Homo sapiens: one gene and its partners. The protein of the gene in region 2 interacts with the protein of the main gene of each other region in a biochemical or structural test. Each region holds a gene or a part of one and is shown on either strand. Other genes may lie near its edges. The genes, in order: MITF, LEF1, SMAD3 and NLK.

Region 1 (7,025 bases), on a different chromosome or scaffold from region 2:
AAAGAGTTCTTATTGGCTGAGGTGCCAGCATCCTAAATTTAGATGGTGCAACTATGCAGGCTCACCAATACAGCAGAGCAAAACTAACACTGAAATAATACCTTTCCACCTTTCGCTGAAAAAATTCAAATGCTAAAAACAAAACAAAACAATGACAAATATATACCTAGTCCTTTTGATGGAAGGGAATGTTACAATTTGACCAATGACATATCTGTGTGTTGGTTCATGAACTCAGTTTTAGAGCACCATCTCTACGAATTTAGGACACACTGCAGGCAAGAGGTACAGTGTGGCTACATCTCAATGAGGTTCTCTAGTAGCCTTCACCAGGATTGAGCTAGGTCCTGAGTTAAACAAGGAAATCATCTTTAGGATTTCCATGAGCATTTCCTTTCACCAAATTTCAAATCTCCAACTGTAAAAAATAAAATGTATGTTTTTGAAAAACATGCTTCCTAGAATCAGTTAGTATTTAGGAATATTTTATGGTAAAGGTACCAAAGTAAATATAGCATTCCTGTCTGTCATTTCGTAATTTCATATATAACCACAGCCACCAGGCTAAGTGAAACCTCTCTGCCTCAAGTCTTCTTTCCACTGAGGCAAGTCAACCTTCCCAGAAGGAAACCTATTCTACAAATACAAGCTATGCTTTCTCCCAACAGTGGGGACAACCACTTTTCCAATGATGCCCTTAATCACATGGGAAAACTGATGAATGTGTGTGAATGATTCAGCAAGTTACCCCACTTTGGAGAAGAGGCAAGGGTGGGGAGGGTGAAGACCACAGATGCCTTCCTGAAATTGCTCAATGAGGCACAATTTCTTATATGACAGGATTCTACCAGTGCCCTCTATAGGGCATGCACTTAGACTTAAAATATTTGCTGTCACACAACCCAGTATTTTTCGTTGTGAAAGTTATCACTCTGGCCGGGCATGGTGGCTCATGCCTGTAATCCTTGCACTTTGGGAGGCCAAGGCAGGTGGATCACATGAGGTCAAGGGTTCGAGACCAGCCTAGCCAACATGGCGAAACCCCACCTCTACTAAAAATACAAAAAATTAGTCAAGCATGGTGGAACACATCTGTAATTCCAGCTACTTGGGAGGCTGAGGCAGGACTACTGCTTGAACCTGGGCACGGAGGTTGCAGTGAGCCAAGATCATGCCACTGCACTCCAGCCTGGGCAAAAGAGTGAGTCTCCACCTCAAAAGAAAAAGAAAGAAAGAAAATTATCACTCTGTGGGTACTTGAATCAAAGAACACAGCTACTAAAATCCAAATGCTTTGAAGATTTTTTTAAAGATGTCAAATTAAATGCATGCCACTTCCTGTGGATGTCAAAGTTGGTGAACACTGGAGGTGGTATGTGGGAGGAGAGCTTCTTCTTTTTTGTTTCTGCACCAACACTGACATTTTCACAACAGAGTGGACAGGAAGCATGATCTCAGGACAGAAACACAGGACTAGGAGTCAGGAGTTCTACACTGGTTATTTGTTCGTGGTAGGCGTGTATGTTTTGTGAAATCAATCTCAGGCTTTCCTTTTTAATCCTCAATTACTTAGGCCTCTCCTTAACACCAAAAAAGTAATTAAAAATCCAGCCCCAAAAACTATGGTCAGACATTAATTATCTCAGGACAACAACAGTCAGGAGAACAAGGGATGACATCAAGTAGGATGATCCTAGAGGAAAGAAAGGATAACAAAACTAACAAGACCCATCTCCTCTTTTAGTCCAGGGTTAGGTTTATAAAGACAAGCATGAATCTCTGACTCACTCAACATTAGGAAAACATTTAAGACTGAGTTATAAACACTTATAACAAAGATTAATGTCTGTGCTTCTTTTTCCACTATTCATATGTTAACTTCAGTCCTATGGGTAACCCTGAACACCTACTAAGCCTCAAGCCTAATATTAGCTGCTTTACATACATTACCTTTTATCTTCACAGAAGCCTTGCAAGATGGCAACTGTCCCGTTTTACAGAAGAGAGAATTAGAGTTCAGAAAGGTTGGATAACTTGACCAAAGTCACAGAGCCAGTGAGTGGTAGTGTCTGGATTTGTGCCTTTATGTCAGATATTCAGTCTTGCCTGAAAATCACTTCTTCCAACAGGTCATTCCTGATCATACAACCGAATAAAAAGCCCCCTTCTTTCATAGGCCCATTCTACCAATAATGCTCCATTTAATTTCCATAGCAGTTAGTAAAACTCATCTTGCTCATGTATTTGGTTCATTGTTAACTGTGCGCCACCTCCAAGATGTATGCACCATGCTAGCAGGAACCCATCTGCTTCTCCACTGGACTCCCTATGGCCAGCACAGAGACTGACACTCAGCACCCAGTCCTTGAGAAGTCCCCAGAAAGGTCAGCCATTAAAGATAAAAGCTTCATCACTCTGAATCCCAGGACAGGGGTCTCAGGTGAACACTCCAAAGGTCTACTTCTCTACTCTTCACAGCATGCATCCAAAGCCACAGGAGGGAAAGACGAAGCGAAGAAATAAGAAAGCCACATTGTAGAAATGGGCTAGAGAAATAAGCTTACCATTGAGAAGCCAAACCTGGTCCTCCTCCCAAGATCATTTGCAATAGAACGGGAGGTGCAGAAATTTCAACAGAGATCCCAGACCTCCCTGTGGGTCTTCTCGACCTCGTTTGTCTCTATAAAGATGCAGACTTATCCCTTGGTATAATTCCTATCCTCGGAGTACACAATGTTCACTAGACTCACAAAAACCTTCTTATAAACTGCAAATTTGCCTTTATAATATCAAAAGCTTGTGGTGGCTGCATTTAATATCTTTGACCTGTCTTCATGATTATTTTCTCCAAATAATGCATACTTGGAGTGTAGTCAAACATATTTTTATAATTTATTCCGATTAGACAAACCCTCAGCAAAGTACATTTTATACCTCACACACACAAACATACACACACACAAAAAAAATGAAACTCTCACTTATTGTCCTTGAAAGATGACAAAAAGAAAGTAGCCAAGGATTTTTTTTTCCTATTATTTATCCTAATACTGCCAATCCTGAAACAAAGCAGTTGGAGAGGGAAATTTAGTAACTTTGATTTGTCCCAAGATACATTTTTTTACACTGAGGTCCTATTCCTGACAGTAAGCACATGTGATCTGTTCTAAAAAAAGGATATTTTCCACTTCTTGCACAACTGGAGCAGATATAAACATCAGCCTGTGCAAACTGCACTGCAGAACTCAAAGGGAATTAAACATATATCAACTTAAGTAAAATCTGTAAATAGTAGTAATCGGGAAAAGGAAATCTCCAATAACAAACGAAACCAAGACTGAGAATCCCACTTTAATCAAGTGTTCCCTCTAATCATACCACAAAACGAATCTGCATAGTACGATTTGAACATCTGCAGGTTGAGGCACCTCAATCTTGTCTACTTTGTTTTGGATGCATGATTCTATATATGTTTTAGTTATTCTTAAGAGAAGGGTAAAAACTGCTACCATAGTAAAATTCTACTAGAAAAGGAGGAATTAATTTCATTTACTAACAGTGCTAGGTGCTATGTTAAACACATTTATACATTTTTGCTTAGTTTTAAAAGTTCTACCAACCCTAAGGGGGTGGGTTCTATTGATCTCATTTTACAGCTTAGAGAAATTGAGACTCCAAGAAGTTAAGTTTCTTGAACACAGATGTACTGGTTAAGTGGCAAAGCAGCGACCACAGACAGCACTTAAGCAGGGCTCCCTCTAAACCTGTCCACATGCATGCAGCCTCTCTGCCACCATGAGGTATCATCAGGTGCCTGGAGACCACAAGAAAGAGCTTAAAGAAAGGTTAGAAGTTTAAAAGGCAAACGGAAACCCTAAATGTCTACTTTAGGACCATGCCCTCCAAGATGTCTAACATTTTACTTAGTGTAGAGAAACACATTTGACTATTGTTTCACCTTTAAGGCCAAACTCAAACACCCCTATTTGTCCACAAAACTGCCTCCCCAGTTCCCCTTCCTCTGTTAAATGCCCCCAACTGCTGATGCCCACCCTGCCACAGGGACCACACTCTGCCTTGTATAATTAGCTGGACCCATGAGTTCTCTTTCCCTCACCACACAGGGAGGGCACAGTATGATGTATCTTTGAATTTTGCACAATCAACCAGGCATAGTACAGACTAGAGGACAAGAGCATGTAGCTACAGAAGCATCAGTTTAACTCCAGGCCCCACCAACTTGGCATACCTGAGTTTCCCTCTCTGTAGAATGAGAATAATAAACTATTACATACACCCAAGGTTGAATTAACAGCATTAATATAGAGTTAATATTCATAATAGTGCCTAGCACATAGGAAGCACTAGATAAGTCTTAACTGTTTTTAAAATTATAATTAATATCATTATTGTTTTTATTTATTATGATCACCTCATGCAGATTTCACAAAGATTAAATAGGTTTTACACACGTAAAAACACTTAGAATGGGGCTCACACATAGTACATACTCAATAAATGTGACCCATCATTATTAGTATTAATGTGCACATACTAGGACTCAATAAATATGTGTTGAACACGAATTTTTATGGATACACTAATGTCAAAATTGTTAGTTTTTTTAACTAGCATAAAAGAATTGTTATGATTAAATGAAAGATACAAAGTGTAAAATATTTATCTGAACACTTCATTAGAAGAAAAGCAAAAAGGAATTTACTAACATTCAAAGAACTGTGTTGCGTAACAACACTTGCCTTAGAGAAGACAACCACAGTCAAGCAAATGCAAAACACCTTCCAAAATGCCAGGTTCGCTGCTAGGTAATAAAGAAAATAGCAACAAGAACATCTGCTAACATTTACTGAGCATTTACTATGTGTCAGCACTGAGCACTTACTGTGTGTCAGGTGCCATGCTAATACTTTTCCCACAGTCAATGTAACACTTATATTCTTGAGACTACTGGAGGCAGGCCCCTATTTGCCAGATGAGGAAACTGAAATTAGACGTCACCCAGCCTGCCCAAGGTCACCCAGTTAGTTAGGGACAGACATCGATGGCAGAACAAGGCTCTTCATCTCTATGCTAGTGGTTCCCTCAGATTAGACAGACCAAAAAAAAAATCAAGAAAACTTTCAGAAATCAAAAAATGATTGACAGTTTTGTTTTGCCAAGAATGGATTATTATGTCATCAAAGAAAGGGCATTTTTTAATATGAAGACAGGAGAAAAACATCTCAGCATAACTCCAAGAAATGGCAGCGGCCTTACACCCAAATATATGTAGGTATGCGTGTGACGCAACAGTCTTTGTCTTTCTCATTTCACCCAAACCTTTAAAAGTTCACACACCTTTGTGAATCAGCATTTGGGGATCACTGCTGTATCCTGTCCTGCCATGATAAAGCTAATACTCACTTTCATTCCCATTTCTAATTTGCAGAAAATGTAATAACAGCTGTCTAAATAGTACTAAAGATTTAAGAAGAAATTGGAATTAAACTAAGCCAACTGTGAAGTCTGTCCAGGAAAAGGACATTAACAACTACAAAGCCATGTGGACTGAGTAAACCAAACAAAAGGACTATGAGCCTGAAAGATGCTCCTACGGTTTAAAATGTTTTTGGGTACAAAAGACCTGTAGAGACTTCCTCTGCTCCTAGGAGCTCATTCAACAGTTTCACATTTGTTTCCCTGCCATGACTATGCCTATGTGAATTCTGGGCTCACTCTAGATATTCAGCGCTTTTCCTCTGCCACCCACCATTCAGAACTCATTCCCAGGAGAACACAAGGTTTCTAAAACCTTGTCGGAGGAAACGGTGTGCAAACAATTCATTGGAACCTTTTCCCACAGCATGTGTCTTCCTATACACAGCCTTAACCACCAATATGACCAAAATGAGATTCACATAATCTAAATCCAGCAACTTCAGATTCCTAAAGGCAAGGATGTCTGGGTTAGAAATGAAACATGTCCTTCCTCATGAAAGACTTGAATATCTGAGGTTAGCCCCAATGAACAATATATGAATTCCTCTTTGGAGAAAGCCTAGTAGGTATCTATTTTAAAGGAAACACAATATTCATTGCAAAAACAAAAAACCAAATACCATACCTTGAGTGGGTTATGGTATTAAGGAAGAAAGCAACACATACTCAAACAAATATTTATTGTGTCACGCATTGTTCTAAGCCAGTGGTTCTGAAATGAGGGTACTTTGCCTACCACGGGATGTCTGACAATGTTCAGAGATGTTTTTGGTTGCCATAATTGATAGAGGCAGGAGTACTGGCCTCTAATAGATAGAGGCCAGGGATGCTGCTGGACATCCTGCAATGCATAGGACCCTCCACAACAAGGAATTATCTGGCCCAAAATATCAATAGCACTGAGGTTGAGAAACTTTGTTCTAGGCTCTGGGGACACAATAGTGAGCAAGGAACAAACAGAAAACCCTGTTCCCTTGGAGTTTGCAGTCTAGCATGGAGAAACACGTAATAAACATAACATATTGGAAAATTATACAGTAGATTATAATATAAGCCCTATGGGAAAAAAATATATAGCTGGACAAAGAAGACAGAGAATTTGGAGGAACAGCAATCGCAAATACTGTGGTCAAAAAAGGGCCACACTATCAGTGTGATGGGAATGATGTTTAAAGAATGAACTGTAAAGAAAATAACAAGAACAACATCTGCTAACATTTCCTGAGCACTTACTACGTGCCAGGCACCATGCTAATACTTTCCCACAGTCAACGTCACACTTAATGTTCTTAAGACTCCTGGAGGCAGGCACATACTGGTTGGTGGGGGAGTGAGCACTGGGTCTGTCTGGGCAAAGGATGATCAAGGCAAGTGCAATATAAAAATGCCCAGTGGTGGAAGGGCCTGGGGTATTCCAAAAACAGTGAGGAGACCAGCCTGGCTGTAGCAGAGGGAGGTAGGAGGCAGGCAACAAGAGATAAGGTCAGAGCTGACATCTTAAGAACCTTGAATTTTACTGGGAGAAA
Region 2 (6,910 bases):
GTGTGAGAGAACGTCTGTTGAGAGAAATGTGGATTGGATAGCGTTTGGAGGTGAGTAGATGAGGGAGGTCTACCTAGCTAGTTATTACCCTCTGGAAGCACTTCAGCTGACAGAACTACAATGGGCTTTTGAGGCTCTCTCCTTCAAAACTTGCTCAAGACCATTTCTCCCATGTTTCCCGTGGTAGGAAGGATCTAGCGGTCATGACCTGCACCAGGAGGTCTGGCCTACCAATAGGACACATGTCCTCACAGAGGAGACAAACACAGAGGGCTAGGCTGATCAGGAAGAGAAACCAGTAGCTACAGAAAAATTCCCCTGGAGTAATTCATTAACGGTCACAGGCTTGTCTCAAAGTCATCTTGACATTGCCAAAGTCTGGTTGAGCTGATGGTAATTCACTCTGAATAGCCACAGGAGAGGAAGCCTTGCCTTGGTAGAACATGAATCCAGGAGTGGCAATGACCCCTTTCCTCCCACCTCCAGCTTCTGGGAATCTTTTTGCTTTAGAGCTTTGTGGTTAGGGGATTAACTAACTAGTCTTGAATGCTGGGACTAAGGAGTCATTCAGCTGCAGAAATAAAACTCAGTGTTAACCTTCCTAACCACACATTTTCATTTTTCTTTTTTCTCAAATGTTGGGTAATGTTTACTGTCAAGGAGCTGAAGCTGGCTTTTGTAGGTTATATTTCCAGTCTTAGGGACTTAAATTTCAAAGTTAACTTATGCGTTTGTTTCTCTTTATCATCTTTCTTCAAACAGAGCGTGATATCCTGGGGGTGGCTGCACTGTTACAGATGTAGACTGCCTCCACCAGGATACAGGGGTTGTTGCCTGGGGATGGACAGACAGAATGATGGAAGGTAGGAAGGAGAGAAGAAAGTGAATGATAATTTAGTTCCAAGGTATGGTGGAGAGAACACATGTTGAGAGTTCAGAGGCTCATCCTGCTGCCTATTAGTTGGGTGACCTTTGGCAAGTTACTGAACTTCAGGTAGCCTCAGTGTCCTTATCTGTAAGTGGGTGGGAAGATGCAAACTGTAATGATGATAATGTGAAATTCTAAAGTCCATGTCTCAGTGCCTGGCAAATCAGTGCGTAGTGGACAGTGTTTTTGTTCCTTCCCCCTCACCAGCTTCTTGCAGACAAGACCACCTTCAAGTCAACAAGACTGTCACTTTTATGATGCCAGGAGGCCTGGGGAACAGCCCAGCACTGGGACTCTCTAGGGGTCACCATGGGCCAGTCATTTTATGACCATATTCCTAAGTCTCTGCTAAAAAAACAGGATTAGACTAGCTCTGTCACGCTTGCTTCCTGCTGTAGAAGTCTGTACCTCTCTTCCTTCATACACACATGACATTGTGCAGCAGAAGAGTTCACACCCTCAAATCACAGGCTTTTGTCAGTTTTTCCCAAGGTGTAAAAATGGAGACAATTGGCATGAGGTGTGTGGTGTGATGCTGGAATTCCATTTTTGCAATTAAAATCTGTGAATCTGTTTACCTCTCATAAAACCAATCTCTAATATTCTCCCCTCAAATTGCACATCGTTTAAGGCTCCTGCCTCTTGTTAGTAGCATTTGAGAGTGGCGTAAAAGGAAGAGGACGACGAAGAAAGGGTCTTTTATTCCAACTCACTTTTTTTGTATCCTCACCAATTCTGAATAAGGAAGTGATATTACATGATGGGGCAGGGGTGCATTTTGTTCCTGGACACCAGCTTTGCTGCCCTTGCCTTGGCCTGGACAGCTTAAACTGACTGGCCAGTGAGCCCTGAGTGGCACCCTGACAGGGCTGGCCCTTGCCTGCTCCTGACCCTCCACTCCACCACCTCAGAGCTCACCCATAGACTTGTCTCCTTGGCCCTTTCTTCCAGAGGACAGCCTGGGGAGGAACCCCCAGGACATGAGCTGGCCAAGCGCTCTGCTTTTGGTAGGATTTTACATTTATTTGGGCTTAGAGAGAAGGAGTTTCCCCCTTTCCCTTTCTTCACTCCTGAGTCAGGGTCTGTAAAGCCCTATTGGCCCAGGGTCGGTGCTGTTGACCTCCCAGAAACAGGCCCACTCTTGAAATCTTTAGATTCACCTTTATTGCTTGGGCTTTTAGTAAGGAACTCTACCCATTTGGGTTCATGGTTCCATTTGGTTGATGGGATATTTTGTCAAGATTGGAATTTGGTCCAGGAGAGCATCAGGGGGGTTCGGTTATATGGGGTGGGGTGGGGTCTTGTGCCGCCTTTGCATCCCCAGTACAAATGCGTGGTGACTCCTGGTGGAGGGAGCCCAAGTCTGAACATATGTAAGATGGGCCTTGCCTCACTCCCTTTGAAGCCCAGCCGCAGCCGGAGAGCAGTAATTGCTGGCTTTGATTGCGCAGACTTCACTGGTGGGTTGGGCTGTGCCGGGGCTCGCCTGGCCTGGCCCAGCTTCAGCCGCAGCCCCCCAGTGAAGCCTTAGATGTGGGAAAGCTCCAGCCCCTGGAGCCTCATGCCTGTGGTTTCTTGAAAATAATCTGGACTGGACCTGTTTTATATCTGTAAAGCAACACTACAAGGCCCCCGTTTCTCCCACTTGGAAGTAAGACTTGGTCTCCCCTGACATCCCTGTATTTTAAAAGAGCCACCAGGGACAAACTGCCTCATTTCATAGTGAAGGAATTTCTTTGCTCTTTTTTTTTTTTAAGCACTAGTCCCTGAAAGGGATTAGTTGCTTTTTGGTAAGCAACTGTACAGAGGTTCTCTGAAGCCAACTTTCCAGGAGAATTTGCAAGGTGACCCCATGGAATAAGGAAATAACAGGTGGGAAAATGTGAGACTGTGGAAAGAAATGACTTTATTAGGAGATATAGACTCTTTCTTGGCAAGTGACATACTATCCTTTAGGTAAATGGCTATCTCTGGGCACCCATGTTTGTGTTAATCACTATATTATCACTTGTACTCAGCTTAAGAGAGGAGGAGAAGGCACCCTTAGGTAAGGCAGTGAAGGGACAAGAAGACTGGTGGAGCCGGAAGTGCAGGGTGCTCTAGATTGGAGGTGTTAGCCCTGCTTGAGAATGGGGCCACAGCAGGGCCATGGAAGTTGTCTGTACCTCAGTACTTCACAGTTCGCTGTGCCAGGCAGTGGTGGGATGGCCCAACAGAAGGGCAGGTTGTCTCCCTCAGGCGTTCCTGGCTGCCAATGGCGAGTCTATTCTGAGTCCCAGTGCTTGTCTCAGGCGCTAGCCTAGGACTGCAAGGCCAGGCCTCACCAGGAAACTAAATGTTTTCATGTCAGACTGAGAGGAAAACCTTCCCAGGAAGAGCAACCTGGACCAAGCCTTTGAAAATCTGTGATGCAAAATTATAATGTAAATAGGAATCTGTGGGGTGCCCTCTCTCCCACCCCAGGCTCTGCTAGAGCCCTGTTTCTTTCTCCGTAGAAAGGCAGGGTCCTTCGTAGCTCTTTGATCCTCCTGCGTGCAAGATCCATACCTCTGTGGGCCTGGCACAGCGAACTGTGAAGTACTGAGGTACAGACAACTTCCATGGCCCTGCTGTGGCCCCATTCTCAAGCAGGGCTAACACCTCCAATCTAGAGCACCCTGCACTTCCGGCTCCACCAGTCTTCTTGTCCCTTCACTGCCTTACCTAAGGGTGCCTTCTCCTCCTCTCTTAAGCTGAGTACAAGTGATAATATAGTGATTAACACAATGCTGTAGTGTTTTCCTGTTAAACAGGGAATGGTTGATTTTCCAGGAGAATAGAAAATGAAATTGTCATTGGAGGACCTCCTCAGTTGAAATCATTCTGTGGCTGATTTCCTCCTATTTTGTTTTTTGTTGGTTGGTTGGTTTTTGCTTTTTCAGTAGCTACCCAGGTATACAAATAGCTTCTTTGCAGTTCTGATCATCTTTAGGGGCCGCATTGGGCATAATTGGAATAATAATACTAGCTAACCTGCTTGCAGGGCTTGCTCTGTGCTGTGCACTTTGTGAGCACTTTAAATATAGGAGCCAAACCTCTCTTTCCAAAAGCCTGAAGGGCAGGTGTCCTCGCAGTTCCCATTCCATAGATCACCATCCTTCCATGGAAAGTACTCTGTGGACTGTAACTTGCCATCTAGACTTTTGTATTCATTATTAAACTATGTCAAAGTTTCCTTTTATTTCTCTTTTACTTTCTTTTTCCATTGAAATGAAAGTGTACGATAATCCACCATTATTTAGAATGAGTTTCTAAAAGGAAACTTGTGCTTGTAACACGGATAGCACAATCACAAGCACAAAGTGTTGGGATTCATCTGAGGCTGTCAAGGGACCCAGGTTGAGAAGGTGCTTCCAGCATCGCTGCCACCAAAGGAAAGCAGCCTCCCCAAGTTCAAAGCAGCGGAAGCAGGTGCTCTCTGGAGTGAAGGAACGGAACTTTGCCATGCTTTTACTTTCCTTTTGTCTTTGTCTCATCTTGTTACAATGTTACATTTTACTTTTAATCACTTTTTAAAAAATCTCAGATCATTAAAGCTTTGAGGATGTGGGAGTTCTCTTATTTGAAAATCATTATCACCAATATCTGGCAACATTATTTTAACATATTTGCTGAGTGTCCTTTCCGAGGCTATCATTAGAGATCCTTGATGTTAGGAAGGAAAAAAAAATCTTGAAAATTGTAAGATCTTAAGGAAAAAGGGAGCGGTTTGTATCCTCTGGGCTGTGAGTGTGAGCGGACAGAGCACATAGCGTCACGGGAGTTGGCAGTGCGTTGGGTAATGTGATTATGTCTGTCCTATGTAGAATCATACAGTGGCTTCCCACAGTGGACCAAAAACACCAAACACTGCAGAATGACACATCTTTCCCTGATCTGGCTGTTGCCCGCCTTCCCTATTCATGTTTGCCTGTTTCCTACTGGTGTTTTTCAAACTTTTTTTTTGTTCTGTTTACCATGACCCAGAGTATTCACTACACTTCACATCATAACTCTGGGCATACGTATACATGGAACCAAAGTAAAAATGTCACTATATTAACTCTGTAGTGTACTCTCAGGATTTTTGACTGATAGGGCAATTCATTTTAGCCATCCCCAAATTAACAAAATGGATTAATTAAATGCAGAGGTTGTAAGACATATATGGTATGGAATAGAGGTTATAATCTTAAGGCCTACGGCAAATTCATATTAATAGCATTTCATTTGTTCCTTCTTGAGGTGGAAAACGAAGCTCATTCCCAACGTGCAAAGCCAAGGCAGCGACCCCAGGACCTCTTCTGGAGATGGAAGCTTGTTGAAAACCCAGACTGTCTCCACGGCCTGCCCAGTCGACCCCAAAGGAACACTGACATCAATTTTACCCTGAGGTCACTGCTAGAGACGCTGATCCATAAAGACAATCACTGCCAACCCCTCTTTCGTCTACTGCAAGAGCCAAGTTCCAAAATAAAGCATAAAAAGGTTTTTTAAAAGGAAATGTAAAAGCACATGAGAATGCTAGCAGGCTGTGGGGCAGCTGAGCAGCTTTTCTCCCCTCATATCTGCGTGCACTTCCCAGAGCATCTTGCATCCAAACCTGTAACCTTTCGGCAAGGACGGTAACTTGGCTGCATTTGCCTGTCATGCGCAACTGGAGCCAGCAACCAGCACATCCATCAGCACCCCAGTGGAGGAGTTCATGGAAGAGTTCCCTCTTTGTTTCTGCTTCATTTTTCTTTCTTTTCTTTTCTCCTAAAGCTTTTATTTAACAGTGCAAAAGGATCGTTTTTTTTTGCTTTTTTAAACTTGAATTTTTTTAATTTACACTTTTTAGTTTTAATTTTCTTGTATATTTTGCTAGCTATGAGCTTTTAAATAAAATTGAAAGTTCTGGAAAAGTTTGAAATAATGACATAAAAAGAAGCCTTCTTTTTCTGAGACAGCTTGTCTGGTAAGTGGCTTCTCTGTGAATTGCCTGTAACACATAGTGGCTTCTCCGCCCTTGTAAGGTGTTCAGTAGAGCTAAATAAATGTAATAGCCAAACCCACTCTGTTGGTAGCAATTGGCAGCCCTATTTCAGTTTATTTTTTCTTCTGTTTTCTTCTTTTCTTTTTTTAAACAGTAAACCTTAACAGATGCGTTCAGCAGACTGGTTTGCAGTGAATTTTCATTTCTTTCCTTATCACCCCCTTGTTGTAAAAAGCCCAGCACTTGAATTGTTATTACTTTAAATGTTCTGTATTTGTATCTGTTTTTATTAGCCAATTAGTGGGATTTTATGCCAGTTGTTAAAATGAGCATTGATGTACCCATTTTTTAAAAAAGCAAGGCACAGCCTTTGCCCAAAACTGTCATCCTAACGTTTGTCATTCCAGTTTGAGTTAATGTGCTGAGCATTTTTTTAAAAGAAGCTTTGTAATAAAACATTTTTAAAAATTGTCATTTTATTAAGAGTGAAGTTCCTGATAATCTAAAATTGCTAATGAACTGAATCCACAGGCCAGGGCAGAGCTGGTTTGTAGAGAGGAACAGTTTGTGTGAGAGGGGTGCTGCTGGTGCAGCCTTCTCCAGGGACAGGCCAGAACCGGCTGTAAATGGGCACCTTGCCCTGTCTCCTAGACATGCAGTCCTCAAAAGTACTTGTATGGCTTGGGCCTCTCCCTCCTTTTCCAGGTGGTATGAAACAGGGTCAAAGGAAAAAAGAGGGTTGCCAGGATTCAGATGGGAGTGAGTCCTTTCCTGAACACAGATCCTCATGGGCTCCCACCATCTGGTTGTCGTGCTCATTGAAAGTCCACAGGTACCGCCTCTCTTCATAGCTCATTGGTATTCAAACTGGGCTTCCACATTGTGGGGTCCCAGTGGAGAAGGTATGTCTTAACACCCCCACCCATCTCCCCAGTCAACATTTTCTAAGTCCTGAGCTGTATTTCATAATTTTTACCTTACTAGTACAT
Region 3 (7,025 bases), on a different chromosome or scaffold from region 2:
TACATAACCTTTACCCCCAAAAAAGTTTCCAAGTGCACCTTGGTAATTGCTCCCTCCAATCCCTACTCCCTCCCTGTAACTCCCTCTGTCCCCAGGCAATGACTGATCCCTGCTTTCTGTCACTAGATTAAGATTAGTGTGCCTTTTACTTTAGTTTAAATTACCTTATAATTTTACACGAACAGAATCATGCCTGGCTTCTTTCACGCAGCATCATTAATTTAGATTCATTCATAGCGTTGCATGTATCAGTAGTTGATCCTTTTTTGTTACTGAGTTGTATTTCTTTGTATGGATATGTTATGGCTCATTCATCTGTTAATACATGTGGAGTAGTTTTCAATTTGGGGCTATTACATTCATGCACAAGTCTTTGGACATAGGCTTTTATTTCTCTTGGGTAAATACTTTGAAGTGGAATGGTGGATCATATGGTAGGCTTATGGTTTTTTAGCTTTTTAAGAAACTTCCAAATGTTTGAGGGATGAATATCCCAATTACCCAGATTTGATCATTACACATTGTATGCTTGTATCAAAATATCGCAAGTACCCTATAAATATGTATAGCTACTGTGTATCCCCCAAAATAAAATATTTTAGAAAGGAACTTCCAAGCTGTTTTCCAAAATAGTTGTACCATTTTACATTTGCACCAGCAGTGGAAGGGAGTTCCAGTTGTTCCACATCCTTGCCAATACATGGCATGATCAGGCTTTTTAATTGTAGCCATTCTAATAAGTATGTAGTCCTATCTCATTGTAGTTTTAATTTGTGCTTCTCTAATGATCAACATTGTCAAGCATCTTTTCATATGCTTGTTGTCTTCATATCTTTCTGGGTAGTGTCTGTTCAAATCATGTATCTCTTTTTTAAAAGATTGAATTGTTGGCTGGGCGCAGTGGCTCACGCCTGTAATCCCAGTACTTTGGGAGGCCGAGGCAGGCGGATCACGAGGTCAGGAGTTCGAGACCATCCTGGTTAACACATGAAACCCCGTCTCTACTAAAAATACGAAAAATTAGCCGGGCGCGGTGCCAGGCGCCTGTAGTCCCAGTTGCTCGGGAGGCTGAGGCAGGAGAATGGCGTGACCCCAGGAGGTGGAGCTTGCAGTAAGCCAAGGTTGTGCCACTGCACTCCAGCCTGGGCGACAGAGCGAGACTCCATCTCAAAAAAAAAAAAAAAAAAAAAAAAAAAAAAAAAAAAAAAAAAGAAGATTGAATTGTTAATATTGAGTTTTCAGAGTTCTAGAAACAGGTCTATTATCAAATATACGCTTTGCAAATATTTTCTCTTAGTTAGTGCTTGCCTTTTTATTCCTTTAACAGTGTCTTTCAAAGACCAGAGGCTTAAATCTTGATGCGGTCTGATTTTTTTTTTATTATTATTAAGTGCTTTTTGGTGTGGTATCTGAGAAATCATTGTCTATCCCAAAAAGTCACAAAGATTTTCTCCTGTTTTCTTCTAGACATTTTAGAGTTTAAGTTTCACTTCAGTTTGTTTTTGTATAGGGTTACAATGTGTAGTTTGAAGATTATCTTTTTTACATATCCAGTTGTTACATCACCATTTGTTGAAGACTGTCCTTGCTCCACTAAATTGTCTTTGGACCTTTGTTGAAGCCAGTCGTCCATATATATGTAACTATTTCTGGACTCTGTTAGGTTCCATTGATCCGTTTGTCAGTCCTTGTGCCATTACCATACTGCCTTGATTATTGTAGCTCCCTTGTTTTTAAAAGTTTAATTAATATCCAAGTGATTCATGTATGATTAATATTACTACTAAGGCAAGAGGGCCACCCACTTCTATCACCTAGATGGAGCTTACCTCCACAGCCCCATTCTCCCCCGCTGCTGGCATGAGCTTTTCTCCAAGGCCTTCTCTTGCAGAGGAGGCTATGATGTCCAGCTGGCCCTTTTTTGGGAGTTTTGTCAAACACCGAAGAGCAAATACGGCCACTTCCCTAATCTGTGGGCACCCAGTGGCTTTGCAGGAGAAGGAGAACAGCTGAATAATTCTCTATTCCCACTCACCACTTCCCACTCTCCCTTTTACTCCTGTTCAACCTCCAGCTCACCCTACTTATCCAGGGCTGGGTTTGGGGAGTATCTGCTGTGATAGAGAATAATAACGCTAATTTGTGGGTGTTTATGAAGCACTTTCAAATGGAAACCAAGCTTCAGGAGGTCGGGGGGCAGAATACCCCATTTTATAGATGAGAAAACTGAGTGTCCTAGGAAGCTCATGAGCTGCCCAGTGTCTCCCAGCTAGGAGAGTAGAACCCTCCTTTACCCCAGGTCTTATGGCTCCACATCCGCCAGTCCTCCTTTTATACCTCAGGGACGAGTCCCAGGCTGTCTTCTCGATCTGCCTGGTAATTACTGTTTTTCAGCTGTAGGGCTTCCTTGTTCTGGGGCCCCAAGGGAGGAAGGTAATTACATCCTTCAAGATGCCCTTAGTCAGCAGCTCCAGGTCAGTTCCTGTGACCAAGCCCAGCTATGACCTTTGTCTGTCCTTTCCCCTTCCCAGGCCAGTGGCTTGGAGAGTGTGATTGGATCCCTCTGTTTCTCTCTTTGGTTGGTGCTGTTGGTGGCATCTGGCCAGCCCTTCCTTCACAGAGTGCCCATGAATTCTCTGTATTCAGGCAAATGGGTGCCCTCGGTCATAAGAAGGCACAGAGGGAAAGCTTGCAAATGTCTCACTGCCAGCCCTGCCAGCTATTAGAAAAATTATGGCACTGACTGGCAGGGTCCTAGGATGGGCCTCCTTGAAGAAAAAGCAGTCCTGCCTCTTAATAGGGTACCTGTGACTCATGAGCATCCATCTCATCTGCTCCCCACTTCTATCCCTGCTACCCGCAATCTGTTGGTCACACGTAGCCAGAGTTCCACAGGGCCTGTCTCTTTCACACGTATGCACAGCCCACTTACACATCTCAGAGGCTACATACTGCTTTTAGAAAACAGGAGAAGCCTTTATCATGGCCTTTGGGGCCCTGCAGAGTACCCCTGCCTGCCTCCCCGGCCTCGTCTCAAGCCAGCTCTCTCTCATGATCCCCTCTCCAGTCCTTCTGGCCTTCATTCTGTTCTTCCGACCTCACCATGTTTTCCACTTTCCACAGGGCCTTTGTGTGTGCCTTTCCCTCTGCTTGTACTGCCCTTCTCCCGCACCCCTTTGCCTGGTTAGTTCTTACTTACCCTTTAGGCCTTCAGGTCAACCATCACCTCCTCTGAGATGCCCTGTCCAGTCCTTCAGCAAAGTGGGGTGCCATGGTCATACACTCTTGGGGTTCCTTGTTATTTTCGTTCAGGACACTTTCATTGTGTGTAATTGTAGGTTTCTGTGATGATGATGATGATGATGATGATGATGATGATGATGATGATTTGAAACGGAGTCTTGCTCTGTCGCCCAGGCTGGAGTGCAGTGGCACAATCTTGGCTCACTGCAACCTCCCCCTCCCAGGTTCAAGTGATTCTCCTGCCTCAGCCTCCTGAGTAGCTGGGATTACAGGCGCCCGCCACCATGCCTGGCTGATTTTTGTACTTTTAGTAGAGACAGGGTTTCACCATGTTGGCCAGGCTGGTTTTGAACTCCTGGCCTCAAGCGATCCACCCGCCTCGGCCTCCCAAAGTGGTTTTGGTGATTATTTGATTAATGCCGGTCTTGCCCAGTGGAATGGAGGGTCCCTGCAGACAGGGACCACTTTGCTGGCCTTTTCTCATAGTGAAGTCTCTTTCCTTACCACTGTATCCTTAGTGTCACACATAATAGGTGCTCATTAAATATGTGTTAAATAAGGGACTCCATTTTAGTGGCACCTCCTCACCTGTCTAATACCAGACACTATCTGAAGTTTTACGTCCCTCCAGAAGCCTTCTGCCTCCCAGCCTTGCCTGTAGCTGACAATGCTTTTGCCGCCCCAAGCTCCCCAGTCCTTTCCTGTAAGCCACCCAGACTCTCATCATCCAGATCACCTGGGGATTTCACAAAGGGAAAGATTCTGATTTAGTAGGTTGGGGTAGGCGCTGAGAATGTACATTTTTAACAAACTTCCCTGAACCTCTGCTGCTGGTCAGGGACCACACTTTGGCCTGGCTTGAGAGGTAAGGGCACCGGGTCATAGCTGCTTGGCCAAATCACCATAGAAGACATGGTTCACACAGGGTCATGGCACTGGCCAATTGTAAGTAGGCACAGTAGTGTGCCCCTGCAGTCCCAGCTACTTGGGAAGCTGAGCTGGGAGGATCACTTGAGCCTGGGAGGCGGAGGTTGCAGTGAGCCGAGATCATGCCACTGCACTCCAGCCTGAGTGACAGAGCAACACCCTGTATCAAAAGTAAAAAAAAAAAAAAAAAAAAAAAAATCCCTTTAATTTCCGTCTTTCACTCCCTGCTCACCACAAATAACTAAAAAAGAAAGGAGGGGCCAGGCACGGTGGTTCACGCCTGAAATCCCAGCACTTTGGGAGGCTGAGGCGGGCAGATCACGAGGTTAGGAGATCGAGACCATCCTGGCTCACACAGTGAAACCACGTCTCTACTAAAAATACAAAAACAAAATTAGCTGGGCGTAGTGGCGGGTGCCTGTGGTCCCAGCTACTCAGGAGGCTGAGGCGGGAGAATGGCATGAACCCGGGAGGCAGAGCTTGCAGTGAGCCGAGATGGCGCCACTACACTCCAGCCTGGGCAACAGAGCGAGACTCCGTCTCAGAAAAAAAAAAAAAAAAAAAAAAAAAAAAAGAGGAGGAAAGGCAAGTTTTCTTTTTTTCCCCTGACTTTCTAATGTGCAAGGGAAGACCTGAGTGAATGAGGGGAGACAGCCTTTGTACTTTGTCACTCTTCTTTGGATCACTGTAGTCCTCATATCTGTGCCTAAAGAACTCTCATTGTCTTCCCCAGCCCTGTCCCCTCTCCACACCTCTGGGCTGAGTAGGAAGCCGATGAGTGGCTCCTGGACCTTTTCCAAGCACAACTGAAGTGACTGAAGTGCGGGCCCTTCCCATGGAATGCCACTCCCTGAAGAGCAGTACAAAGTTGGGGAACCCACCGGGGACTGGTGGGTGAGGCCCGCTCTGCCAGCTGGGAGTCCTCACGGGGCCTTTGTTGTCTTCTCCTGAGATCCCTCCCAGCACTCTCAGCTAGCAGTGCTCTGATCTCCTGGACCTCTGGATCTGGGAGAAATGAGGGGAGAGAGAGCTTTCCAAGTGTCTGAAAGTAGGAGGCCGGACTCTGCAGAAAGCAAGCACAATCCACATTTCCCTCTCTTTCTGCCCCTCCCCGTCCTGGCAGGTCCCTGGATGGCCGGTTGCAGGTGTCCCATCGGAAGGGGCTCCCTCATGTCATCTACTGCCGCCTGTGGCGATGGCCAGACCTGCACAGCCACCACGAGCTACGGGCCATGGAGCTGTGTGAGTTCGCCTTCAATATGAAGAAGGACGAGGTCTGCGTGAATCCCTACCACTACCAGAGAGTAGAGACACCAGGTATGCTGCCTGGCCTGCCTGTGGGGACAGCAGGTGCCAGGGGTCATCACCTCTCCCCGGCTCCCCATCCCCCCGAGGGTCTGCGGTGCACTTGGGGGTGCGGGGACTTTGGTGCTGGTCTGGCATCGACACTGAGCCACCTCTGCTCTGTCTCCCCCGGACAGTTCTACCTCCTGTGTTGGTGCCACGCCACACAGAGATCCCGGCCGAGTTCCCCCCACTGGACGACTACAGCCATTCCATCCCCGAAAACACTAACTTCCCCGCAGGCATCGAGCCCCAGAGCAATATTCCAGGTAGGCACGTGGGCGGCACAGGCTGGCCTGGGAGGCAGGGGCAGCGGTCAGCCCCGACATCAGTCCTGTGGCCCCAATCTCTGCCCCCTGGCCGTCCCCCGCTCACCCCCTCTTTGCGCACAGCTCTGGCCTGAGGGCCCCTGACTCAGAACCGCATCCCTGTTGGGAGAGGACCCATGACCTCAGCTCCCCCCTCACTAGTGATGCTTTTCTTGGCATAGAGGAGCAGCGTGACCCTTCCGCCCGGCCTTGGTGCAGTCATTTATTTTGGAAGCGGAAATAGCAACACTGTTTCTCTCACCGCCCTTGAGGCCCGGACTGGTGTTCAGTCCCAATAGACTGGGGGTCTGCAGAGGCGGGGAGTGAGCTGAGGGCCAGGCAGCAAGTGCGGAGAGCTGGCTCTGTAAATTCGCCTGGGCATCAGGCCTCGGTGAGGGGCTCCAACCTGGGTGGGAATTGAAGTGACTTTGAGTTTTCACTCTGCAGGGAGAAATGGGCTTTGCCGTCAAAGACTGCAAATGTTTTTAGAAGCCCCTCATTTACATGCAAATAACGTGTGAATCACCAGCACTTTCAGACTCCAGGAAAGCTGTGCTTGGCAGCACTTGGGCTAGTCACTTTTGCTTGCTGGGGCAGTAATCCTGCTGCGTTCCTCTTAGAGCATTCTAATTTGGACGTGACGTTCATCCTGGGTTAGTTTACTGGGCTGAGATTGGCTACAGGCCTGTGTGCTTGGGTCAGAGTGTTAAGGAGGAGACCCACTGTCCAACCTTCTCAGATCCTTTGCGGGTAGCCCTGGCGTCCCGCGGGTAAGTCAACTACTCCCTGTTCAAAGAGCAAATCTTGGAGGGCTTCAGTCAGGGTCTGGGGGAGGTTTCAGAGAAATAGATCACACTGTCTTTGCCGTCATTGAACTTGCAACCTAACTGCTGAGTGAGGACACGTCCCTTAGAGACAACAAATAATAACACCTGGTCTGCACAGAAGAAGATAGTAGGGACCAAAGGGTGGGTCTGAGCCTGCAGATCTTCAGAGGACAGAAAGGGGTGAGGCGGAGGCAAGTCTGGACGCCTCCCTGGAGGGGGTGGGGCTTAACCCTCACCTTGAAGGACCAGGATAAGTTAGCCTGGCAGAGGCTCTAGGAGTACACATTTCAGACTTGGGAGTTGATCCGGTCCTGCGTGAGCAAAGGCAGTTATGATCCAAGCGGGAGTCAGAGGTGGACAGGGGCGAGGACAACAG
Region 4 (7,279 bases), on a different chromosome or scaffold from region 2:
ATATAATAAGGAATTCAGACAGCAAGTCATTGACATGTAAATATAAAAATAGAAAAGCATTTGCATACTAAAACATACACCTGGAACTCTTTCCTTTTTCATACCAAATTGTATTTCACCTGTAACAGCTGATGAAAACACTCAATGCAGTTAACTAGAAAAACTTGGTTAAAAAAACAAAGACCCGAATCACGTGATAACACAGGAGGACGGCCATCCACAAGCCAAGCAGAGGGGCCTCAAAAGAAACCAAACCTGTACCTTGATATTGGATTTCTAGCCTCCAGAACTGTGAGAAATAATTTTCTGTTGTTTAAGCCAAAACAAAGAAGGACCTGACTAGATCAATTAACCAAGCAGCAAAGATGCCAAAGCACTGTGCTAGGCGCTGAGGAGAAAAGGATTACTACAGTAGACAATCCTTACCCTCAAGGGGCTTACGAATGTAGTCAGTGACACAAGACAAACCTGAAGTAAGATGGTGCACAGAGGTGTACTTTAAGTACATGAGACAAACTCCATAGGTGGTAGAGCAGTCAATCAATTAAAAACCTCTAGAATGGCTTCAAACCAAATATATGTGGGCTTTCAGATATCAAAGATTCATAGTACCCACTAGCAGAACGTTTGCTGTGTGAGATGTTTCAGCACTCCAGTTCTTTATTGCCCCCTTCCTTAAAAAAATAAATAAATAAAATAAAAACTGCTACAAGTCACATCACTTTTTGATAGAAATGTAAGTGAAAAATGCCTTTTGAATATATTCAAGAATGCTGCAACCCATTTCCCTTTCAGTATCCCTAGTTTTTAGCATTGTATGTAAGGCACTAAAAAAGAAAGTAAGCATCCAGATCTAAGAAGATCCAAACAAGTGCTAAAAGTTATTAGTAAATCAATGACAAAATTTAAACCAAGGAACAACCGTTTTCCTGTCTGTTCCATCCCCCAACCAAAGCTTGGAAATCCTCAAGAGTTAGGCAAGGATAAGTTCACAGTTAAATCTCTGAGATAGTCTGTGGAAGGGAAGAGAGGAAGGCAGGAACAGGCAGGTCCCTGAGCAGAATGACCAAGGCACCATTACCAGCTATACTCTTTTCCACCTTGAATCCCACACACCTTGAAGAAAGGACCACGCTGCAGCAGAAACTTCCTTGGGGACTAGCTGAGAAAACACTGGACTCTACTAGTTTTTTTAAAAAATGGATGAGATCACTTAGCAGCCTAGATTATCAAATCTGAAATATAAATAAGATGGCCAGTTAAAATGCATAAACAATGCACCCATCAATTTTAGCCTCAAAAACAATGACGAAAGGAGATATTTACCGGGCTAGTTCCAAAGAGTTCATTTTCCTGTGGTAATGGGCGCTTTTCTCGGGAGTAACAATTTTTGAATGCACTGAAAATATCAATTCATCTATCCAAAGTGGAATCATTAGTCCTTGGGAGAAAACCCAGTTCATTCTAGTTTTGATAGGAACAAACATATTTTATTATAAACTACTAATCTTTCTAAGGTTAGACCAAATAGACCAAAATGTTATATTTAAGAAGCCCTTAGGCTTTTACAAATATCCTAGCACTAGCAAAGGTAGGGTCATTTGTTAAAAAAGTATTATTTCCTACTACAGCAACTGACCAACAGATAACAGCAACTTAAGAGGCACTAAATGACACTAAAACATTACACTGAATGTGGGCCACTGCATAGCTAGTCTACTAACCTCATTTGTGGTACTCATGTGTGATGCTATATTTAATGCATTCTTATCAAAAGGCTACAGCTACATACTTCTCAACTGTAGCTTTATGGTTTAAAATAAACCACTCAAGCAATGATCTTAACTGGTTCAACTATGAATCCTATCTTTCTTCTGGAGATCAAGATCACAAAATAAGTGAAAAGACAGAAAGGACAGGAAAGTAGTTATGCAAAGTATATCCTAATGACAAGAGTATTATAAAGGAATTCAGTCTGGATCAGGTGCTAACACTTAATGCCACAGGGCCACTGAATCAAACACACGAGATGACCAAGGTCTTCGTAGGAATTAGTATTGCATACATTCATCTACTGATCCTGTGTTCAGTGGCTTGCTTAGGTTCTAATAGAAAAGTTTGGTAGACAGCACACTTATGTGTGTTGCTCATGAGAAGGCGCTCCACCAAAACTTGCCATGAGCCTAGACAGCCAATGCATTAGGCCTCTTTACCACATAAGTGAGGGTGGCTTCCTACAGTTGGGTTGAGAAGCTTGCTGCACCTTGGTCAACATGGAGACAACCATTAGAGATGGACTCATCCAATGACAACCAACAGAAGAAACCATGAGAGGTTGTGTTTTTCTTTGGATACTCACCAGACAACACCAAAGGCTCCATATCCAATAGGTCTATCCGGCTCAATATCCAGCTGCTGCTGTGGATGATGCGAGTGCTGATGATGGTGCGCCTTAACTGTAGCAGCTGCGGCAGCCTGTACCTGAGCTGGGGCTGCTGCAGCTGGTCCAGGAGCCTGCCCCGGTGCCGGTGATGGGAAATATGGCTGTTGTTGCCCAGGGTTTAACATGGCTGCAGCTGCAGCCGCTGCTGCGGCTGCCGCAGCTGCCGAAGAGGTGTGCTGCTGTACAGGGTGTACAGCGGCAGCCGACCCCGGATGAAGATGGTGTTGAGGGTGGTGGTGGTGGTGCAGGTGAGGAGGAGGGAGGTGTGGAAGGTGGTGGTGATGGTGGTGGTGGTGACCTGCTGCTGCTGCAGATGTACCGCCATTGTAAGCCGCCATCATTTTTGCGTTGGCTCTTGCGCCACAAAGAGACATTCAAAATAAATGCCCTTTGATTGGAAAGCAAACTGGGTCAAGCTGTCATTTGGCCATTTAAAAATGAAGAAAAACCACTCACTCCACCTCAAAAAACATAGAGCTTTATGTCTTCATCAGTCAATCCAAACAAGTTAGAGGATCTTGGTGTTTAATTTTGGGGTGAGCGTGTGTGGAAGGGTGTGGGTTGCCAAAAGGAAAAAAAAGGGAAAAAAGAAAAGAAAAAGGAAAAAAGGACCCCTTCCCCCCAGGATTCCTGCCACAAGTGGGTACTAAAACTCCATTCTTAATTTGGGGGAGGTTCCAACTTTGAATGTGGGAATAAAGGCCAAACCTCCCGACCCCCTGAACTCCACACACGAAAAGGATCAGGTAACACACCACCCTTGGAATCTTGAAAGAGGGTTGACTCATCTACCCCTTCCATTCCCACATCCTTTTCTAAACACCTACCACCTCCTCAAAAACAGGATTAAAAAAAATTCCCACCACCCTAAATGGAGAAGATGGGGGGAAATTTTCTGGGAAACCAGCTTCCAGCTTCCCCCCCCCCGAACTCTCAGGCCTTCCTACATCTCCCCCTACTCCTAGTCAGGTTGACCTGATTGGGGAGGGGGGGCGGGGGTTCCAAACTTTCCTGGGCAGAATAAGCCAGGGAAGGAGGCTGGAGTGAGGAGAGGAGGCGACAGCAGGACAGAGAGGAGAAAGAGAGCCGGGGCAAAAGTGAAGGGAAGGAGGTGCAGGGAGGAATGAAAGATGTGGGCAGCGCTCGGACGCCCAGACGGAGGGAACCGCCCCGGGAGAAGGTTAGGGTCCCGGGGCCAAAGAACAGGAGCCCCGGGAGGCGGGCGGGGTACGGTCGGAAGCGGGCTGACTCCTGCCCCCGCCGCCGGCTGCTTCTGCTGAGGAGGGTTGGGGGGGAGAGCGGGTGGGTCCCCCGCGCAACGGCCCCGCAGGGCTCAAGGCTGCTCCGTCTCCCCCCCTCCCCCCCACCCGGCTTCCGTCCCCGCGGCCGCTTTCTCCTCAGCCGCCGCGGCCGCCTTCTCCTCAGCCGCCGCCTCCTCAGCCGCCGGTTCCGCCGCGGCCGGACTCACCTCCCCTAGCAAAGCCGGATAGAGCGGAGCCAGCGTCGGACACGCGCAACCAGCCGCCGAGGCCCCGCCCCCGCCTTGCACGGACCGGCTGCCCTAGCCAATCCACGCCCACCTGTCCGCCACCGCCTCCAATCCTGGGCCAGGAGCTTCAGACAGGCGCACTGTTCGGCCAGTGGCAACAAGGTGTGGGTCTTCCGGGGAAATCCCGCCCCCGATCCGGGATGGGCAGATAGAAAGACCAATCAAAGGCAGAGTTTGGCTTGACCGACAAGGCTTAAAGCCAATTAAAAAGCAAAGATCTTTGTGACATTTTTCTTTCGCCTCTCTCCTCTTTTCTTCTTCTTCTTTTATTATTTATTTTTTTTTTTTTGGCAGGAGCAGGAAGCTGCGTGGTAATCCCGCCTGCAAAAGCTGGAAGAGAGGGGCGGAACGAAAGAACCAATCATGAGCCAGAGACAAAGAACAGAGTAACCAATCCTTGGGTTGAAAATGAAGTGGGATGGAACCTGGGCCAAATAGACACTTGAAAAAACAAATGGAAAAAAAAGGTTGATGTAAGTCCCACCCTTTAGATCTCCTATAGGACAGGATTGTGGAGAATTTGCTGTCATATCGAGACAACCTCTTCAAGGGGCGGGGCTTAGGGAAGGGGTGGGGTCTTAAAGTGGGCGGGACCTAGACGAAGAAGGCGGAGTCCAAATCATCACTGGTCCACTGATCCGAGATGTCCAATATCCCACTTAAGATGTAAAGTGTGGGGTAAAAAATAGGGGAAGAAAAAGGGAATGTTGAGCTTCAGAAACTCAAGGTCCAAGGTCACTCAACAAGAAGACAAAGGAAACTCAAAAGACTGACAGAAACTCAGTAGACTGACAGTTCGTAGTCTACGGCCGGTCCTCTCCATAGTTAATCCTGATCTTGGCAAAAAGAGGAGGAATCTCTGGCATTCAGAACTCCACTGTCGACAAATGATAAAGCTGTTGGTGCAAATTAAAACAAAAAAAGTAAACTTGACCACAAAAATAATAATTTTCCTCTATCTTTCTTTCTTAACAGGGTCACATTCTGTCACCCAGGCTAGACTGCAGTGGCACAGTCCTAGCTCACTGCAACCTCCAACTCCCGGCTCAAGCAATCTTCCCGCCTCAGCTTCCCGAGTAGCTGGGATTACAGATGTGCATCACCATGCCCGGCTGATTCTTTAATTTTTTAGAAACAGGGTCTTAATATGTTGCCCAGGTTGGTCTCAAATTCCTAGGCTCAAGAGATCCTCCCACCTCCCACCTTGGCCTCCCAAAGTGCTGAGATTACAGGCGTGAGCCACCGCCTCCAGCCTCTCCCATATTTTCTATCAAGTAAGTTTCTGTCATTGAAATCTTACTAAAATAGCATCTTTCCATCACTTCATTTATCTGAATTTACCCTTCCTTTAAAATGTGAAATAATAAGCTTACAGAACCTTATCCCTACTGAAACTGTATAGTTTACTCAAAAACTTGGAAGTCATCTTCGATCCCTCCTTTGCCTGTCCACATTGTCCCTTCCAATCTATCAGTCATCAAGTCTTCTTTTTTTTTTTTTTTTTTTTGAGACATGGTCTCTGTTGCCCAGGCTGGAGTGCAGTGGCATGATTACAGCCCACTGCAGCCTCCACCTCTTGGGCTCAGATGATCCTCCCACCTCAGCCTCCCAAGTAGGTGGGACTACAGGCACATGCCACCACACCTGGCTAATTTTTGTATTTTTTTGTAGAGATGGGGTTTTGCCATGTTGCCCAGGCTGAATCATCAAGTCTTAAACAATTTTAAATCCCCCTCACTTCTGCTACTTCCCAGTCACACAGCATTTACCCAAATTTACACCACTAACATCTTTAACCATTTCCCTGCCTGCAAGCTAGCTCTCCTTTGATCCATCCCCCTCTGGGGGCATAGTAAATTTTTAAAAATACAAATCTGAGACCAGGGGCAGTGGCTCACACCTGTAATCCCAGCACTTGGTGAGGCCAAGGTACGTGGATCCCTTGAGTTCAGAAGATCAGTCTGGGCAATGTGGCAAAACCCCGTGTCTACAAAAAATACAAAAATTAGTGGTACACATGTCTCTAGACCCAGCTACTGAAGAGGCTGAGGTGGGAGGATAGCTTGAGCCAGGGAGGTAGATGCTGTAGTGAGCTGAGATCCCACCAGTGCACTCCAGCCTGGGTGACAGTGAGATCCTGTCAAAAAAAAAAAAAGGCTGGCTGTACCCCTAAATAGCCTGGCATGATCTGGTTCCTGCCTACCTACCTCAAGGGTCTTATCTCTCCCTTCCACTCCACACTTCAGACATTCTGAACTTCCTGCAGCTCCTTGAATGCTTTCAAGCCTTCATGTATATCTTCAGCCCAAAACATTTCCCGCTCATCCTTCACTGCTCTAATTCATCCCTCAGGTCTTCGTGTAAATTTTACTTTTTTTCCTGGAAAGTTCTAACTCTGTTCTAGAGTATACGTTTCTGTTGTATATCTCCATGACACTGCCTCCCTCATATCGATATTTTAAGTGCTTGTTGAGTTTGACCGGGGACAGAGAGCTTGTCTGTCTCACTCAATGTTGTATGCCCAGTTCCTTAGGACAGTGCCTGAAAAAAAAGAAGACACTTGCTACAGATTTGCCTGAATTACTGAGTGCAGAAGTGGGTACAAACCCAAGCTCTGCCATTTACTTACTCTATAGTTTAGGCAACTTAACTAACCTTTCTCAATCTCAGTTGCCTCAACTGAAATAATACATGACTCATGAGGTCTATATGAGGGTTAAATGAGGTGATGTATTTAAACGTGCTTGGCAAATAGTGAAAATGCAATATAAATTCTCTTCAACACTCACCCTCATGTAATATTTGAGATGTTTCCAATTTTCCAATGCACAGCACTCTCCTCCAAAGTGTAGTTTCCTAAAAGCTTCTTAGATGTTCAGCAAATTATCTGGTTTCACCTCAGACCTACTGAATAAGAATTGGAGGAGGAGAGGAGGAATCTGTTTAACAAGCTCTCCAGGTCATTCTTACAAACGCTAGAGCTTAAGAAGCACAGGCCTAGAGTAAAGGAGCTTAGTCTTTGTAAACTTTCTTTTTCAGCGCTTAGTATAGTACTATAATAATACATAGAAAGTGCTTGATACATGTGAAATAAATAAATTAATCTAATCCACGAGAAAACAATTGTACATTAAGAGTTATTTATTCCTTCCACAAACATGTATTAAGCACCAATTATATCTAGGCATGGTGCTAACTTCAACTGTGGGGGAGAGGAGATAGATGTACAGATGCTTCTGGACTCATGATGAGTTTGTGTCCCTTCTTTTTTTCTTTTTGAGACGGAG

What was found.
Region 1: the proteins of LEF1 (region 2) and MITF form a complex in vitro, tested with the Homo sapiens proteins (2 studies listed by BioGRID).
Region 3: the proteins of LEF1 (region 2) and SMAD3 form a complex in vitro, tested with the Homo sapiens proteins (2 studies listed by BioGRID, with this or other methods).
Region 4: of the proteins of LEF1 (region 2) and NLK, one has a biochemical effect on the other in vitro, tested with the Homo sapiens proteins (4 studies listed by BioGRID).

The regions. Positions count from the first base shown.
Region 1 is NC_000003.12:69,742,450-69,749,474, reverse strand, and holds part of MITF (microphthalmia-associated transcription factor), read right to left. Parts: intron 1-7,025. UniProt on the Homo sapiens protein: Transcription factor that acts as a master regulator of melanocyte survival and differentiation as well as melanosome biogenesis.
Region 2 is NC_000004.12:108,047,033-108,053,942, reverse strand, and holds the end of LEF1 (lymphoid enhancer-binding factor 1), read left to right. Parts: intron 1-5,191; coding exon of another isoform or gene 5,192-5,271; 3' UTR 5,272-6,395; downstream 6,396-6,910. UniProt on the Homo sapiens protein: Transcription factor that binds DNA in a sequence-specific manner. Participates in the Wnt signaling pathway. Activates transcription of target genes in the presence of CTNNB1 and EP300.
Region 3 is NC_000015.10:67,159,602-67,166,626, forward strand, and holds part of SMAD3 (mothers against decapentaplegic homolog 3), read left to right. Parts: intron 1-5,293; coding exon 5,294-5,487; intron 5,488-5,651; coding exon 5,652-5,783; intron 5,784-6,559; exon of another isoform or gene 6,560-6,592; intron 6,593-6,929; exon of another isoform or gene 6,930-7,025. UniProt on the Homo sapiens protein: Receptor-regulated SMAD (R-SMAD) that is an intracellular signal transducer and transcriptional modulator activated by TGF-beta (transforming growth factor) and activin type 1 receptor kinases.
Region 4 is NC_000017.11:28,038,412-28,045,690, reverse strand, and holds the start of NLK (serine/threonine-protein kinase NLK), read right to left. Parts: upstream 3,015-7,279; 5' UTR 2,818-3,014; coding exon 2,360-2,817; intron 2,354-2,359; exon of another isoform or gene 1-2,353. UniProt on the Homo sapiens protein: Serine/threonine-protein kinase that regulates a number of transcription factors with key roles in cell fate determination. Positive effector of the non-canonical Wnt signaling pathway, acting downstream of WNT5A, MAP3K7/TAK1 and HIPK2.